4 linked regions of the Homo sapiens genome follow. The protein of the gene in region 3 interacts with the protein of the main gene of each other region in a biochemical or structural test. Each region holds a gene or a part of one and is shown on either strand. Other genes may lie near its edges.

Region 1 (4,337 bases), on a different chromosome or scaffold from region 3:
CTATAAAATTAGGGACTGAATATTTTATGAAAATATGATTGTTGTATTTTTGAAAATAATGTCAGGTAAAGGGAAAATACAATAAACTATTAAATTTTCCTTTTTCCAAAACCATCATTGCCATATAGCTTATGAAATCAAATTCTAATGTGCACTTTGACTTTAGAAATTGAATTGCCTAGACTCAATTGGAACCAGTGTTATTGACCTCTTTAATGCCTATGGAAACCCCACCATGATTATTTGGTTCTCATTAAAAATGAGGTTGAGGAGACAGCTCAAAATAAAAACTTTGCCTTTTCACCTAATTTATACCCTATACCCGCCCCCCCCCACAAAAAATAAACATTAAAACTGGTTCGACTCAACCCAAATTTAATTGGGAATTTGTTTCTATCTAGTTATAATGAAGAGTTGATTTAGAACTATCTCACTACTCATGTTTTCTATTTCTCACCCTTCCAGAGGCATTGACCCCGCAATATTTTAAGAGATTTGAGAATATTTTGATCAGGGATATAATATCATGGCTGTGTCTTTTTAATCAGCACAAATATAGACCTAATTTTTGAGAACATTAGTATTACCAAAATAACTTTATGATGCAAAAAATGCATTTAGGGAAAGACACCATTTGTTTGGGAAACTGAAAATTAAAGGCATGCGCATTGAAAATGTATTAATTCAAAACCTTGTGGTTTCATGAACTATTTAGCAAATTAAGTGCTGTATTTAAATGTTTAAAAAATATAAGTGACCCTCCTGAAAGTTGTTTAATTTTAATAGAATAAGAAAGAAATAGTTTCAGAACTTGATCTACTATTGTAACTAAACTGTATGTAATATCCTATTAATATTAGTGTATGTTTTATCTCTCTTTTTAAAAATATAGCAGTGTCATAGAATAATGACTTCTTGAGAGACACTAAGTGACACATGGACACAGTGTTACATATAAAATTAGAAATGTTAATTAAAACATTAATTTAAAAATATGCCTTGATAGCTTTATCTAGCACACTGCATTCTTTTTGAGAAATGACAGTGAAATTAAATGAATCAGATATTCATTAATTATATTCTGTCTGTGGTTTGCTGTTAGATTTTGAAATATGTTGAAAAATTACTTCAAGCAAATACTATCAAGAGTTCAAATTTACCTGAAACAGGACCTATTGTGAAAAAAGAAAAGAGGGAAAATGGGCCAATATTTATGAGAATTTAATGTACACTTGGCACTATGTGAGAAACTTTGAAAAAGAAAGCTATTTTTCATTGTTATCTTAACATCTACCTTGAAACTGAAGTATTATCACATTTTAACAACCTGAGAAAGATGAAATTTATGAAAATCACAAAATTGCTTTGTGGGAAGGCAGGATTTGAAGTATATCAAATTTTACTATCAGGTACTACGTCTACCTGATGGTAAAGACTACACTCTTTTTACTTAATTCCTGTGGTTTCTAAAATACAATCAATAATCTTTTAACAAGTTTCATAAATTCATTTTTTCAGCTATTTGTTTCTTGAATTTTAAAAATATTATAACATTGGAATATAAACAACTGTCCCCATCATGGGGATAGAATTTGAAACAATAGTCTGTTAAAGTTCCATCAGTTTTGAAGCAGAGCAAGAGATAAGCTACTTATCTTGAGCAGGATGATCTCAAAATGACTTCCTTTCTTATTCTTAAATATAAATCTAATACATGTAAAAAGAAAAAAAAAGTTTGTTTTTATGAACAAAGTTCAAGATTATAATTTTTTAGAAATACTCATGAGCTTATAATTTATAAATAAAAAGTTATCATGCTAACCTTTTGACCATCTGTAAGCTGGTAATAAAATGTCTTTATTAAAAAAAAGGTCATGCTAGGCCATGTTAGGTTTATACTACATCTTATCAATGTTATGTAAAATTTCTAGACAAGTGTATTTGTTTTAGTTTTCCCTGAAATTTTAATTTTCCAATTATTTTAATGTCCCTTGGTATTTGAGAGGAGCTCTCATTCATGCATCCCAAAAGACATCGATTAGCTGAATTTGTCATGATATTTACTAAACATATATATGCATTTGCGCTGACAGGATTGTGTCCAAAACCTATTGACATTGAGGTTGAAGGAATACTTTCTTTGAATATATGTACTACCATTACAAAAGTTATCACTAAAATCTTATCCATTCAGTAGATATTTGTTGAATATTAGTAAATGAATAATTGAATCAATAGATGAATGGCACATGCGTAAGCTTTTCATTTTTGTTGCATTTCCTGGCAAAGCTCCCTCTGTCTAGAATAACTTCTACCTTTTTGTTTCTGTAAAAATATTCTGCAGGCACTAAAGCCTAGTTAGTGCCTAGTTAGTGCCTAGTTTGTGCCTAGTTAAATCCAATATGACCGTATCCTTGAAAGTTTCCTTCATTTCTCCAGATGTCCCAAGTATAAATACAAGCAAAGAGCTTGTTATATTCTGTCTTGCAGGCTGGCAAAGATCTGTCTCCAGATCTAGACAGTAAACTTTTTAAAGAAAACCGGAGGATTTTCAAAACTGTGTGAGTTTGTAACTGAATTAGAGTGCCATAAATACTATGCTTCATAATTGACATAATTAATGTATTTTATACTTTCATAATATTGTACTTGGCTAAACTTTTAGCATATTTTTATATAATGATGCCAATTGTGATAATGTTGCACTTATACAATATATTGAGTACCATATTATTTCTTATGTTACAAAAATAATTTACCCACCATTATTCAATAAACTTAACTTTCAGTCAGCTACTTACTCTATAATGCTCATTTTTATAGGATTTATATAACCAGTTATTAATGTGTTTCAGTTTAAGTGGTACTGTGCCAGAATTCTTAAAGGAGGGCTTTTGTTCCATTACACTATGAGAGGAGTAGTTAGAGTTGAAAGAGGACAGATACAAGTGTTTCTCAGGAATGCTTACTGAACTAAAGAAAGCCAGAGACTTCTTTGGAGTGATATTTGGAAAGTAAGTTGAGAGTGCATTTCAAAGACTTGACAATACATGATGTTCCATTGTGGGTGGCATGAGGGATTTGTTTTAAATTATTTTCATTCTACTTCATTGACAATAGAGTTTTTACAAATCAGATTATGAAAAGTGTTCAGATACTCTGCCACATTTTTAATGCATTTCATCTCTAAATGATAGTGGAGAAGTAACACAATTTGCATACCGGGATCATAGTTCATAACACATTGTAATTTTTATTTTCACAGAATTAGTATAATAGTGCTGACTATGTGCTTTTTGAATAGATGAGTGAAATAAATGAATGCATAGATGATTGAATTGGTCTGTCATCAGCTGCTATGCTCAACCTCTTTAACACACTGTTCATTCAAGTAGCTGATCATACACCAATATGAATCTCCAAAAACACAATGGAGGGATGAGAGGACAGGCATAGTGTACATGGAGTGAAGAACAGAGAATCTATCATGATTTATGTACAATCATCTCCATCATTTATGACAGCATGAGTTTCTTTTTATGTAAAGATCCCTTTCATTCTAAGGTAAAGTGAAGCTGCATGCCCTGAATCACACTGAGGTCACACTTTAAATGAATGCTCTTTTGTGGTAGTTGCAGTTTGACAAGCAGAGTTGGGTCTTCTTTAATTTTATCTAGAGCCCAATATGTACAGGAATATAATATATATGTGTATACAACATACATATAAGTATATATGTGTAAACACACAAACATATATGTAATAACAGTAAATAACAAGTAATAAAGAGTGGGAGACTGCTTGAGTGTGAGACACAAATTATTATCAAATAGTATAGAGTAACCCATAAAGGACCACAGTATTTGTTTTTGAATATGTCAGTGTCCCTATAAAATGGTTAGATTTGCAATGAATGACTTGGAAGATCATCTTATTTAAAAGTATGTTTGTAAGTAGGCCCCCTAAATCTTTCTATATGATCATGCAGTCATACATCAAATACGTCCTGAGAAAGGCATCATTAGGCAATTTCATCATTGCACGAACATCATGGAGTGTACTTACACAAACCTAGATGGTAGAGCTTACTACATACCTAGGCTATATGGAATAGCCTATTTCTCCTAGGCTACAAACCTGTGTAGCATGCTACTGTAGTGAATACTGTGGGCAATTGTAAATATACAATGGTAGGTATTTGTGTATTTAAACATAGAAAAAGTACAGTAAAAATACAGTATTATAATCTTATGGGCCCACCGTCATGTATATAGTTCATTGTTGCCCAAAATGTTGTTATGTGATGCGTGACTGTGTATTTCTCTGTCTACACATAC
Region 2 (4,337 bases), on a different chromosome or scaffold from region 3:
TCAAGCGTTTCTCAAGCGTGCATATTTGCAAAGTGTAGGCTAGGTACTGCAAGCCACAAAGATAAGCATGACAACTTTCCTGTACTCAAGAAGTTTACAATCTCATGAGGGAGAGGTGGGAATGAGACTGGGCATGAGCAGTTATGCTGTAAATTAGAGTAAAATCAGTTCCGTTTTAAAAAAAAACAACAACAACAAAAACAAAAAAACAAAAAAAAAACCGCAAAGAGTTATAAAGGGTCAAGTGCGAAGAAGAGAAGGACAACATTAAGTTGTGGGGAAATCAAGGAAACCTTTATGGGCCTTGAAGGATAGATAGGACAAGAAGCAGAGACAAGGTAAATACTTAATTCAAGCCCTCTCTTTCCCCAAAATGCCAGGCATGTTTAAGGAATATTAGTTGAGTTTGGTTGGAACATAGATATGTATAGGGGAGCAGTGAGATTTAGCTGGACATGTTGGTTTGAGGCATTAGTGCGGAGGATCCTATATGCCAGGATGAGGCACTAGGGAGCCACTGATTATTTTAAAGTAGCAGTAATTTGAGCAAACCCACTCTGGATTGAAGTGGCAATTAATAGAAAGTGAAGAGACAAATTAGGAGATGACTGTAACTGTCCAGGCTGAGATTAGACTCTGTAATAGTGTAGTGTTGGTGGAATGGAAAGGGGAGAAATTGAGGGAAAAAAAAAAAAACCAGCTAGAATCTATGGAATTTTGCAACTCACTATCCATGATGGCTTTAAAGAGAAAGCAGGATCAGAGACAATTTAGTGATTTTTGACCCAGATAACCAACATGGTTGATGCCATTGTTGACAAGAAAAAAGCAAAGGTGAGGATCTGATTTTTCAGATAGTTCTCTTTTTGTTTTTTTTTTTTTTCTTTTTAAAGGAATAGTGAATGATCAAATATTTCTGATAGAGATGTTAAGCAGGGAAAAGGAAATACAAGTTTAAAGCTGTCTGATGGGAATTGTTACACAGTTGTGTGACTACATGAGATTACTCAAAGGAGTGTGAAGAGAGAAACAAAGGGAGTCCAAGCTAGATTTTGAGGGAAAAAGCTTTTGTTTAGAGGGCAGGGAGAAAAAGCAGCAAGAAATAACATCGATGCACACTCTTCAAAAACTGAAAGATCAAGAGAAAAACTTATGACTCTACTGTTAGAAGAATCAGTCCTTGCACGTATTAGCATACATGCACAAAATCATTAGATTTTTCAGCAATGTTATCTTTAACAGAGAAAGATTTCTAGAAAAAAAATCCTGTTTAGTTTTTCTTTAGAGGAAGTGCTGCCAAAAAATTGTCTTAATAAAAGTAGTTAATTTGTGTTTATATACTACTTCATGCTGTCGTTTATACTCATTCACTTAAATCGCTCCTCTTTAAAGCAGTTTTTTAAATCATTGTCATCACTTACCAAATGAGGAAATTAGTACACAGAGATGTAAAGTAATGTTCTAACGCTTCCCTGGCAAATCAATAATAGATCTTCTGATACTCACCTTTATATGATCAAGGAACCAAAAATGAGTCCACAATGCCTTGTAACTCAGATTACCTAAAACACTTTGTATGTTAGTTTCTGTGGCACTGGTCTTGTATAAATGTTCCAGTCTTGGCTTAGCGTGTGTGTTGGCTCAGGCATTAGACTGGAAGCAGGACTTCCCTCCCTCCCAACCCTGGAGGGAATCAGATTCTCCAAGTGATTGTTGAATCTTAGGGACATGAGTCTGGACTTTGAGTCCAGACTGACTAGTGTTATTAAGAAAGAGGCGGCTTTCTTTACAGTTATAGTTTAATTTTTAAGAACAGCACAGCATGGCATTAGACTTAAGGACTTTATTTTTTTAATTCTTTTTTTTTTTTTTTTTTTGAGACAGAGTCTCACTCTATCACCTAGGCTGGAGTGCAGTTGGTGCAATCATAGCTCATTGCAGACTCAAACTCCTAGGCTCAAGTGATCCTCAAATCTTAGCCTCCCAAGTAACTGGGACTACAGGCACACACTACCATAACTGACTACTTGTAAAATTTTTTGTATCGATGAGGTCTCACTATGTTGCCCAGGCTGGTCTCTAACTCCTGAGCTCAAGCAATCCTCCTACCTCTACCTCCCAAGTTGCTGTGATTATAGGCATGAACCACTGCACCACCCAGCCTTGAGGCCTTTAATACTCTGAAACTTTTCTTTATATTATCAGTTGTATATAGCAATTTCACTGTGTACAATGAGTCATCATTTTTGTTGGTTTAAGTTATTTTTATGTAATATCAAATAGTTTTAAAAGTTAGATAGTGCTAAAAGACGTCTACGAACAACAGCAAGCCCCCAGCAATTCCCTGGTCCCTTCTCCTTTTCTGTCTACTCCACTTTCAACTCTTTCATATACTGCTATCTTTTTATTCATATTTTAGATGTTATCAGTAGTCTCAGGTGAGAATTTATGTTCACATGTATCTATTATTCTCCCCCTATCTTCCACAAGATGGTTTATCACAATTTCTGGTTAATATCTTATTTAAGTTCTTCATTAATATGACCATGTAATCATTGTTCACCGCTAAGTCAAGTAGTATAGTATGACTACATTTATTTTCTTTGATAATTGATTGTTTTTCTTGGAGTAAATATTTGTCACATCGTGTCCTTGTTTCTTAGCTAAATCTTCTACGGTGTCTAACTGTGTGTGTTTTCCTGAAGTTATCCTTTCTAGAGCCCTCTAACTTTCTTTGTATGAGGTCTTTTTTTCCCCCCGCTTCAGGAAGCTCTTAGAATTGTCTGTTCATTAGCTCTCTTCTGAAGATGTGCCTTGGTATGGATGCTTTCATCATCACCTGAGCTGGACACTTGGGTAACACTTTCCATCTGGACATTATGTCCTTTAGTTCTGGGAAGTTTTCCTAACCACTATTTTTATTCTTTGCTTTTTCTGGAATTTCTATGGTCTGGATGTTGGACCTCCTGACTGATCCCCTAGTTTTTATATCTCTTCTCTTCTGTTTTCCAGTGCTTGCTTTTTGTGTTTTTTCTATTTCCTTGTCTCTATCTCCCAACTCTTTCACTGAATTTATTTCCATTTTAGTGATTATATTTTTAATTTCTAAGAGCTCTTTCTTGTCTTATGAGTATTCTTTTTTATAGCATTCTTTATTTCAGAGATCCAGGGGTTTTTTTCCTAATATTTCTCAGGGGAGAAGAGATTAGGAAATAATAAACCTGGCTGTTAGTATTGACGAACTGGGCAAGAGTCCCCCTGTTCCTAGTTCCTGCCCCCCTGGTATCCCCACGTCTAGAGCATTTCTGTTTCTGTATCTCCAGAGATTCCATATCCTATCTCCCATAGGGGTGCAGGAGGGTTGTCACTTAACCATATCAATTAGCAGGTGGGGATGTAGGGGGAGGGTTTCTATGCACTTTTTATATAGCCAATTCCCTCATTTTAGGTTCCAGCCTTATCTCTACTTTCTGGAATTTTTTTTGCTTTCAATTTCTGGGCGTTCTCTAGCATTGAGCTGGGTGGATCAGCTTGTTTTCTGTAACAGCCACTGTAGTTGGAACTTCTTTCTCTCCACTAAATGATTTACTATTTTAACAACTCATCTCCTTTCCACCGTTATATATTGTAGCTTGGAGTTACAAATGTCTCTTGGTTTCATGGAAGATGAAATTTGTGTTGCAATTCCTTGTTCTCCTTGTTTAGGGAGGTAATTTTGAAAAGGAGAAGGGATGAGAAAGGCCTTTATTCCACCATCTTGAGACTGAACATCCCTATGATACACTCCTATGATTGTGTGTTGTGTTTATTTAAGCCCTAACATTGGCAATATTATTTAACGTAACCAAGAATGGCAGAAGGAAGAACATTCTTACTCGTAACTGATCTTATTAAGCACATGGAGTAGATAGTAACTTACACTGTGTGATAAGAAGGTCATCTGAATTCCCCACCTAAAATCATCTTAGTACCACACTTCTGAAATTTAACAATATAGAATATTTTGAAGAATAATAGAATGTTTGAATTTGAAAGGATTTCATCTAGTCCAGTCTCTTATTTTACAAATTAAGAAACTGAAGCTGCAGATTGACATCTAATTCACAGCAGCCCCAGGCCATCTGAAATCCCCAGCTTTCTGGGACTGTGCTGTTCGCACTGTGGCCTCCTGTGGTTAAGCATTTCTCTCTTCCTCAAAGAAATTTTAAAATGCATTTACTCTTGGGAGGAGCAATACAGGAAACTATTAATTAGTATTAATTTATTTATGAAATCCAATTAATTCATTTAAATTTGGCTGCTGATGGCAAATCAACTTGAGAAAGTTGGTAAGCTAA
Region 3 (3,578 bases):
GGTGACCCTGCAGTGGCTCTTGAAGGCTGATGGTTTCATTCCCGCCCTCTGCACCCTCAGGTCTGGAGAGGGACAAGTTTGATAACAAGACAGTGTCATTTGAGGAACACATCAAGCTGGAGCACAACATGTGGAACTACTTGTACTTCATTGTGCTGGTCCGCGTGAAGAACAAGACCGACTACACGGGCCCTGAGAGCTACGTGGCCCAGATGATCAAGGTGTGAGCAGGGGCTGTGCCAGGCCTGTGGGCCCAAACCAGCCATTCTAGAGTCATCACTGTGCACCAGAGGCCTCATGGTTTTAGCTTCTGAGTACCCTGGGCCCTGGAGAGGAGTGGCCCTATCTGACTGTTGGCCCTAGGAGGCCAGGCAGAGGGGCTCGGACAGCTGCAGACACTTGTTGAAAGGTCAGCAGGGCGAGGAGCAGCAGCTGGAAGCAGCTCTGGGCTGCACGGAAGCCGCTGCTGCAGAGGGGCCTCCTCACACTTCTGGGTGTCAGGAAAAATCCCACAGCAAACCCATGCGCCCCGAAGAACACGTGTGGTATCCCTGGGCCTGTCGTGCAGTGATGCTGAGGAGGGGTGGAGTTGGGGAGACCCTGCCCGTGGCCAGTGATCTGTGGGCCGCTCTCAGGGAGTGTTTTCTAGCTCGGTGGGAAGGCAGGCTGCTTCCTAAAAAGTCTGAATTAGATGATCCTGGGCTGAAGGGGAGCCTGGAAAAACTTTAAAAATCACTTACAGAAATCAAATGTCATCTGTCCAATTTCTGTAATAATGGAGTGAAGGCAATGAATCATAAAGAAGGAATTATTTATCGTTTAGTCTGTATTTCAAACTGATCTTTGTGTACAGGTTTATCTGTTGGTCTGAGAATTCACAGCTTACTACAAGGAAGCTGAGAATTGCTTGGTGCCCCCTCCCCCCCCGACTCCTCTGTCCTGGGAAACGTGGCTTTGCCTCCCAGACACGTGTCAGATGCCAGCTCTCCTCAGCGGAGCCTCCTGATCCCTCAATTTGCCATCTGTCTGACTCGCGTCTTCCCGGGGCGTGGGGCGTGCTTGTCAGGCAGGCGGGCGGGAGGAAGGAAGGAAGGAGATCCAGGGTCTGTCTGGGTGCAGAGGCCTTCCTCCACCTCTCAGGGGGTGTTATGAGAGTAAACAGATGGTGCTGATACCAGCAAAGGACTCAAACTCAGCTGCCGACGCTGCCTAACGGAAGTCAGCCTGTCTCGGTGGCAGAGGGTTGACAAGAGGGTTGACTGCCAGCTCACTCTGGCCCCGGGGAGGACCAGGTCAATTCAGATTTTCCCATGACACATCCCTGACGAGTAGTTTTGTTAAGGGTGTGGCAGAAGCCTCCCCCCACATTACTGTTTTTCTAAATGAGGCCTTTCTAGGCCGGGCCCACGCCTGCTTAACCCACTGGTGATGTTTTTCAGAACAAGAACCTGGACTGGTTCCCCCGGATGCGGGCCATGTCCCTTGTCAGCAATGAGGGCGAGGGGGAGCAGAATGAGATTCGGATTCTCCAGGACAAGCTCAACTCCACCATGAAGCTGGTGTCCCACCTCACTGCCCAGCTCAACGAGCTCAAGGAGCAGGTGTGCACCCCGCCTGATCCCAGGCCCACCCTGGGTTCTATCCCTGGGCAGTCCCTGCCTGCCTTCATCCTTCCTGACCCACCCTCTTCCCCACTGGCCTCTGGCCCTGGGCCTGGATGAGAAGGCAGGTGCCAAACCCACTCTCCCCTGCATGGCAAGTCAGACTGGGGTTGACAACCCCTGCCTTGGGCCGCTAAAGACAAGGCCAAGTGGAAACTTTAGTACAGGGTGGTGGGGCCCTCTGTCTCTCATCCCCTTCCTCTGACAGCTGCCAGGTAGGTCCTTTGAGGGGATCCCCATCACTGGAGATGGGGGAGTTTAAGGCCCTCTTGCCTAGACATCCTCTTCTGCATCTGGCAGTGCCTGCATGAAGATGAGGCAGCCTCTGTTAGTGGGCTGGTTTCCCAGCTGCATCAAATCCAGGGTTTGTGACACGCTAATTGAGAACAAGGGTTTGGTGCTGACATCGACATCCTTAAAGCACCCCGAGGGGCCCTGGCCCGCCGCCAGTGCCGAATAGCAGCTGGGCCCACAGGGGAAGACGGGTGCCAAGCTCTTCCACAGCACCCATGGAGGGAAGGTGCCAGGCGGCCTGACCAGGCCTGTTGGCATCTGCTTAACCCTAGATGACGGAGCAGCGGAAACGCAGGCAACGCCTAGGCTTTGTGGATGTCCAGAACTGCATTAGCCGCTGAGGAGAGCCACCGAAGGCCCCAACAGGGGATGCTCATCACTGGAGACTGCGACTGGGAAGAACACTGCCCCCTCCCTCGGGTTGGGTGGCCCAGCCAGCTGGCCAGCCTCCACTCCCACTCTGCCAGACACCCTGACACCCACCCAGGCTTTGAAGAGCATGGAGGGGGAGCCTCAGAGCTGACAGTCCTGCTTAGAGCCCTTAAAAAGACTTGAAAGTTCACTGGGACTCAGTTTACCTTAATGCCTTAGCAGAAGATAAATCCTACCTAGAGACCTTTGTTCCTTAAAGCAATAACTGACAACTCTTTGTAGTCCTCCTTGTGGGTAGTTAAGAGTGGGGTCACCCCTTTAACTCCAAGCACTACATTTTGGCGGCTGCCGGCCTCTGGGGGAGGTGGCAGTTATGCTGTTACTAGTGATTTTAGGGCTTTGTTATTTAACTTATTTCAAGGGTGCTGTGCTCAGCCCTGCCCATGGCTGTGCAGCTCCCTCCGTGCCTCAGATCTGCTGTAGCCAGTGCAGACCTCACTGTCGTGTCCATGCCACCCCCGGCATGGCTCCAGGTGGCCTGGTGACTCCATGATGGACGATCTTGCTCCCAGGACCTGCCTCTTCCCAGGCTTCCTGGGGAAGAGTTGTACGCCCAGGCAACAAGGGCTGAGCTGCGCTTGCGTGGCTGTTTCATGACCGCTTGTTTTTCTCCTTTTGGTGTAATGTTTTACAAATCCTTTGGCCTGAGAACTAATATGTTAATTGCCTTAAATAAATTAATAGAAATCTAGTCCGTTAAAAAGGGATGTGTTTCCTGCACTCCCCCGGGGGCTGTGGGGATTAACAGGACACACTGGCAGAAGACAGGAACAAGAGCCCCTCCCTGCTGGCCTGGCCTCTCAGGCTCTCAGGAGATACGCTGAGTGACATCCTGTCTCAAGGGTCCTCCCCTGAGATTTGCCTACCCAGAACTGCATTTCGGCATAACTGGTTTCTACGGCAGTCCTGTCGATTTTATTTTATGCATTTCAGAACATCCTGAGGAGTCTAGACACAGACGAGGTTAAGAACCCACTTCCACTTTGTACCCACCAGGGCCGCTGTGGGCCCAGCCCTGTCCCTCACGGTTCCAGAGAGAAGGATGCTCAATATCAGTAAGAGCCAAGGTTCCATGGAATAATGAGGTGACCCTGTGTGTGTCCTCAGCCAGCAGGGCCTCTGACTTGTGGCCACCTACAGAACCTGCCCACAGTGCTGAAGCCAACTGCAGCTGAGGCCCCGCTTGGCCAA
Region 4 (4,337 bases), on a different chromosome or scaffold from region 3:
CAGCTGGCAGGCACCCCTCAGCTGCTTTGACTCCAGGTAGCATGGAAAAGAGATGGAAATGGACATCAAAGCACTTCTGGTGCCATGCACTGAATGTTAGCTTTTCTTATTTCCCACAATCCCCTATGAAGTGAAGAAACTATTTTCATCTCTATTTTATAAATGAGAAAACTAATGCCCTGAAAATAGGAGTGAGTTTCTTTAGGTCATACAGCTAGTGGGTTAAAATTCTATCCTCAGTTGCTCTGGCTCCATAGTCCCTGCTTTTTCCGTGGTATCATGCTGCTTCCTTAAAGGGCTAAGTTAGCCTTGTTAGGAGGCTCTCCCAAACTGTCTGATAAGTTGGCATAGAACTACACCTGTTTGATTGTAAATCTTCCCTAACTGGAAATCAAAGCCTCACCTGTGACCTGCTTGAACTGACCTCCCTCAAAGACGTGGAACCTAACATTTTGGAGGTCATACCATAGCAGATCCTGCTTCAGCCTTTCATTGACCTACAAACCTTGAGTATGACTTCATCTTTCAAATGTGTTTTTTAGCCTTCTCGCTAAGGGGCTGCCAGGGATTCAGTTGTGCCAACAATTACCAGCATCCAGGCAGCGACCCTCCTGTAATCACTGCCCACTATGTCCCCAGTATATAGGATAGGATCCTTTGTTATGTGCTCTCACAGAGCACTGTTCTTTCAGAGTACATATCTTAGTAGGTAATTATGTATTCATTAAAGTGATCATTTACTCTATATCCACCACCAGCTTGTAAGCTCCATGAAAGCAGGGTCGGTGTCTGTCTTCTGTATCGCAAACACTCCGAACAGTGCTCAGTAAGCATTTGTTAAATGCATGAATGCTTTTCCACCAAAGAATCAGATGGTTACTTATCTGGCCATAAAGAAAATACAAAAAGGTTGTCTGTGCCTCGGATAAATGGGCCTAGCTGTGAGGCCTGCCCAACCATTTGTTTGTTAGGGGGCTAAATGGTAGAAAAATGCTGATTCTTGCTCTGCTGCTCCAGACTTTGGAGGCTTTAAGCTTCCCTGAAAGCAGACATGAGCTCAGCTTACCTCTTTCTGGTGGTATTTGATTGCCACCTTCAACTTGGCCAGGTCATGGTACTTCTGAGGGTCAAGCTCTTCACTGTGGTCATCTCGATGGTTGAGGATGATCTCCAGTTCCCTGGAGCTCCGAGCTTGGTCCAGCAGGTCTTTGGCAAAGAGCTTGCACTGCTGAGAGAGCTCCTCATACTCGGCCTTGAACTCATTCTCCACCTTGCTGAGCTCCTTGAGCTCCCAGCCCAGACGGAAGGCAGTTAGGATGGGGTCCTCACTTGATAAGGCAATGAGTGAGGGGCTTGCCAGAGCCTTATAGATGTTCAGTCGGGAGCGAGAGTGGCGCAGGCTGTCTACCTCTGAACTAGACACACACTCCACACAGTTGCAGCGGATCTGGTGGGGCCGTGGGATAGTGACCCGTTTTTGGACAAGCAATTTGATGATTTCGTAGTTGTTGGTGTGGGCAGCCAGCATGATGGGAGTGATGTCCGGTGTGAATTCAGAGAACTGCGTGTCCATCATCAGAGTGGGGACCTAGGTACAAGAAATGAGAAGAATAGAAGGGCAGGATTAAAGTTTGGAGAGAGAAGCATAGGGCCTATAAAATGCTGGCGATTCAGGAATTAGAGTCTCCATTCTTGTTTCAATTCTTTTGACCTCCTAAACCTCCTTCCTTATAGCTAATGTTTGTGGGATGCTTATTGTGTGCCAGGCACTATTCTAAGCACATTACATGTCTTTACTCATTTAATCTCCACAACAACCTTGTGAGGTAAATATTCTTCCCATATGAAGAAGCTGAGACAGAGGGAGATTAAAGAACACACCTAAGGTTACAAAGTTTTTAGTCAGCAGAGCCAGGATTCAAACCCAAGCAAGACTCTAGAGCCAAGCTCTAGAGTCAAATTGTCAATTATGCAATGACAACATGCCCATTTCTGTCTGAGACATACTGGAGAATACAGAGAAGTAAAGGACATTTTTCCTGACCTCCTGGAGAATTACTTGGGTAGAGCAAACTTTCATAAAACTGGTAACAGTACATAGTATTATCTGCTCAGTTCCAAATGAGCAGTAGAGACTATATATATAACTTCAGGGGACCAAAGCCCAAGGCCAGACAGGGTTCGTCCAACTTCCTGTAGGTCCCAGGAAGGTAAAGATGATTCGTTAGGGTCAGGAAGAAGTACTCTGAAAATGAAGACTTCTCGGCTTGGGGAGGGGATACTGATAGCAACAGTACCATTGATAAAACTGCTATGTCCATGATGTAATGTTTAGTGTAAATAGCAGCTATAGGTGAAAGATGGGGGCTTCTTTGGGTATTCAGGAGCACTTCCGGGTGAGTGTGCAGAACCTGATCAATGAATTAAAAAATCTTTCGACTTTAAAATGTCTCTTGCCAGGCACAGTGGCTCACGCCTGTAATCCCAGCACTTTGGGAGGCCGAGGCGAGCGGATCATGAGGTCAAGAGATAGAGACCATCCTGGCTAACACGGTGAAACCCCGTCTCTACTAAAAATACAAAAAATTAGCCGGGCATGGTGGCGGGCGCCTGTAGTCCCAGCTACGTGGGAGCCTGAGGCAGGAGAATGGCATGAACCCAGGAGGCAGAGCTGGCAGTGAGCCGAGATCACGCCACTGCACTCCAGCCTGGGCAACAGAGCAAGACTCAGTCTCAAAAAAAAAAAAAAAAAAAAGTCTCTTTTGGGACCCAGTCTTTTCTCAGTCCAGTAGGGAAACTGAGGCAGCTTGCTAGACTCACAGAAGAGTTTAAGTGTGGTAGGATCTAGAGCTAGAGAAGGGGAGGGCTGGAATAGTCAACAGAGGCAACAGAGGCTTTAAGAGGTGGAGCCGAGTATTCAAAACATGTCTAGGATTCCAGAAAATTGGGAAATATTGATTTTTATTACACTTTAGGAAAAAAAAGTTCCAAATGTTCATTTTAACTGGGTAGGACAGACCATGGATAATTGGGAGTCTCATCGAATAGACAAATCATGGGATTTTTGTTTTGTTTTAGATTTTTTTATCTCTGTAAATGTAAGCAGAGAGACAAATCGTGTTTTAATCAATAGGTTCTTTTTACTCTCAAAACTCCTTTAAAAAATAAAACAACAACCCACAGTTACTGGCGAACTGACAAAGGGATGAGTTAACTGTTTTTCAACATCATTGCCTCCCTCCCACCTTGCACGCAGGATTCTCAAACAGGGAAGTGGCCAGAAAACATACAGTAGGAGAAAGGTGGAGGAGGAGGAGTTTGCAAGAAACCTGTTTCCTTCACTGAGTGCTTGCATCAGCCTCTGAATAGTTGAAAGATGACTGCATAATGGTCATTAATGGCTAGGATGGAGCAGCGAGTAAACACTGTTAAACATTTAGAGGGAGCAGCTACAAACAAGACAGCAGGAAGTGAGCAACTGGCTCATAAAGTAAATTGGACACAGGAAAGAGTAATCTCAGAAATTAACATAAGCTTACAGGCTAAGGAAGAAGTAGGTCTGAGTGGGTCTGGAAATGAACATAAACACTATCAGCATAAAGCCTAGAGTTGGGAGAGATGGGGAAGTGAGAAATTTGTCACAGTCTGCCCAGGAAGAAGCGAGCTCAGATGAGAAATCTGCCCTTTCTCCAGGCAGAGGCATTCCTCATCTCTGTCAGGGTCTAAAAGTGTTGAGCAGAAGGGAAGAGAGGCTAACCTGTAGCACAGGATTCCCTGGGTTCGATTATGGGTATGGGTCTGCTTCCTACCATGCTATTCCTCTTTCCTCGCTCTCTTTCTCTCTCTCTCTCTCTCTCCCCGCCACTTCCTTATTCTTTCTACTTTTCTTACTCTTTTCCTTTCTTTTCTTCTAAGGCAGTGCTGCCAGTCCTGTCCAATACACACAGCAGTACCCGTGAATAGTGTTTAGCCCCACTTGTATGATAGAGCCAAAAGGTTGTTGTTGTCTATGCCTAGAATATGAAATGCTTTCTGAAACTACTCGATTATATTGTCTAACAAGGAACTTTATTATTCTCCATTCGGCTTCCTGAGTACCTAACACCAGAGAGGAAACCTTTTAAAAAGAAAACTGGTCTACAGTGACCAACCTTGCCCTCCCGCCCAGACTGCTTTTTCTCCTCCTATCAGTGTTGTCACTCACAGGTTGCTTTCTGTGTGTATATCCTTGTGGATCCCCTGTGTGGAATGGTCTCTCGCCCCATTTCTCTGCCACTCAGGGGCCATTGCAAGTTCTGGCTTCTTCAATAGCTCCTCCTCTTAACTTTGAGCTTATC

What was found.
Region 1: the proteins of ITPR3 (region 3) and TRPC4 form a complex in vitro, tested with the Homo sapiens proteins (one study listed by BioGRID).
Region 2: the proteins of ITPR3 (region 3) and TRPC3 form a complex in vitro, tested with the Homo sapiens proteins (one study listed by BioGRID).
Region 4: the proteins of ITPR3 (region 3) and TRPC5 form a complex in vitro, tested with the Homo sapiens proteins (one study listed by BioGRID).

The regions. Positions count from the first base shown.
Region 1 is NC_000013.11:37,862,844-37,867,180, reverse strand, and holds part of TRPC4 (short transient receptor potential channel 4), read left to right. Parts: intron 1-4,337. UniProt on the Homo sapiens protein: Forms a receptor-activated non-selective calcium permeant cation channel. Acts as a cell-cell contact-dependent endothelial calcium entry channel.
Region 2 is NC_000004.12:121,944,724-121,949,060, reverse strand, and holds part of TRPC3 (short transient receptor potential channel 3), read left to right. Parts: intron 1-4,337. UniProt on the Homo sapiens protein: Forms a receptor-activated non-selective calcium permeant cation channel.
Region 3 is NC_000006.12:33,693,485-33,697,062, forward strand, and holds the end of ITPR3 (inositol 1,4,5-trisphosphate-gated calcium channel ITPR3), read left to right. Parts: intron 1-60; coding exon 61-221; intron 222-1,439; coding exon 1,440-1,601; intron 1,602-2,227; coding exon 2,228-2,296; 3' UTR 2,297-3,078; downstream 3,079-3,578.
Region 4 is NC_000023.11:111,911,225-111,915,561, forward strand, and holds part of TRPC5 (short transient receptor potential channel 5), read right to left. Parts: intron 1,589-4,337; coding exon 1,067-1,588; intron 1-1,066. UniProt on the Homo sapiens protein: Forms a receptor-activated non-selective calcium permeant cation channel. Mediates calcium-dependent phosphatidylserine externalization and apoptosis in neurons via its association with PLSCR1.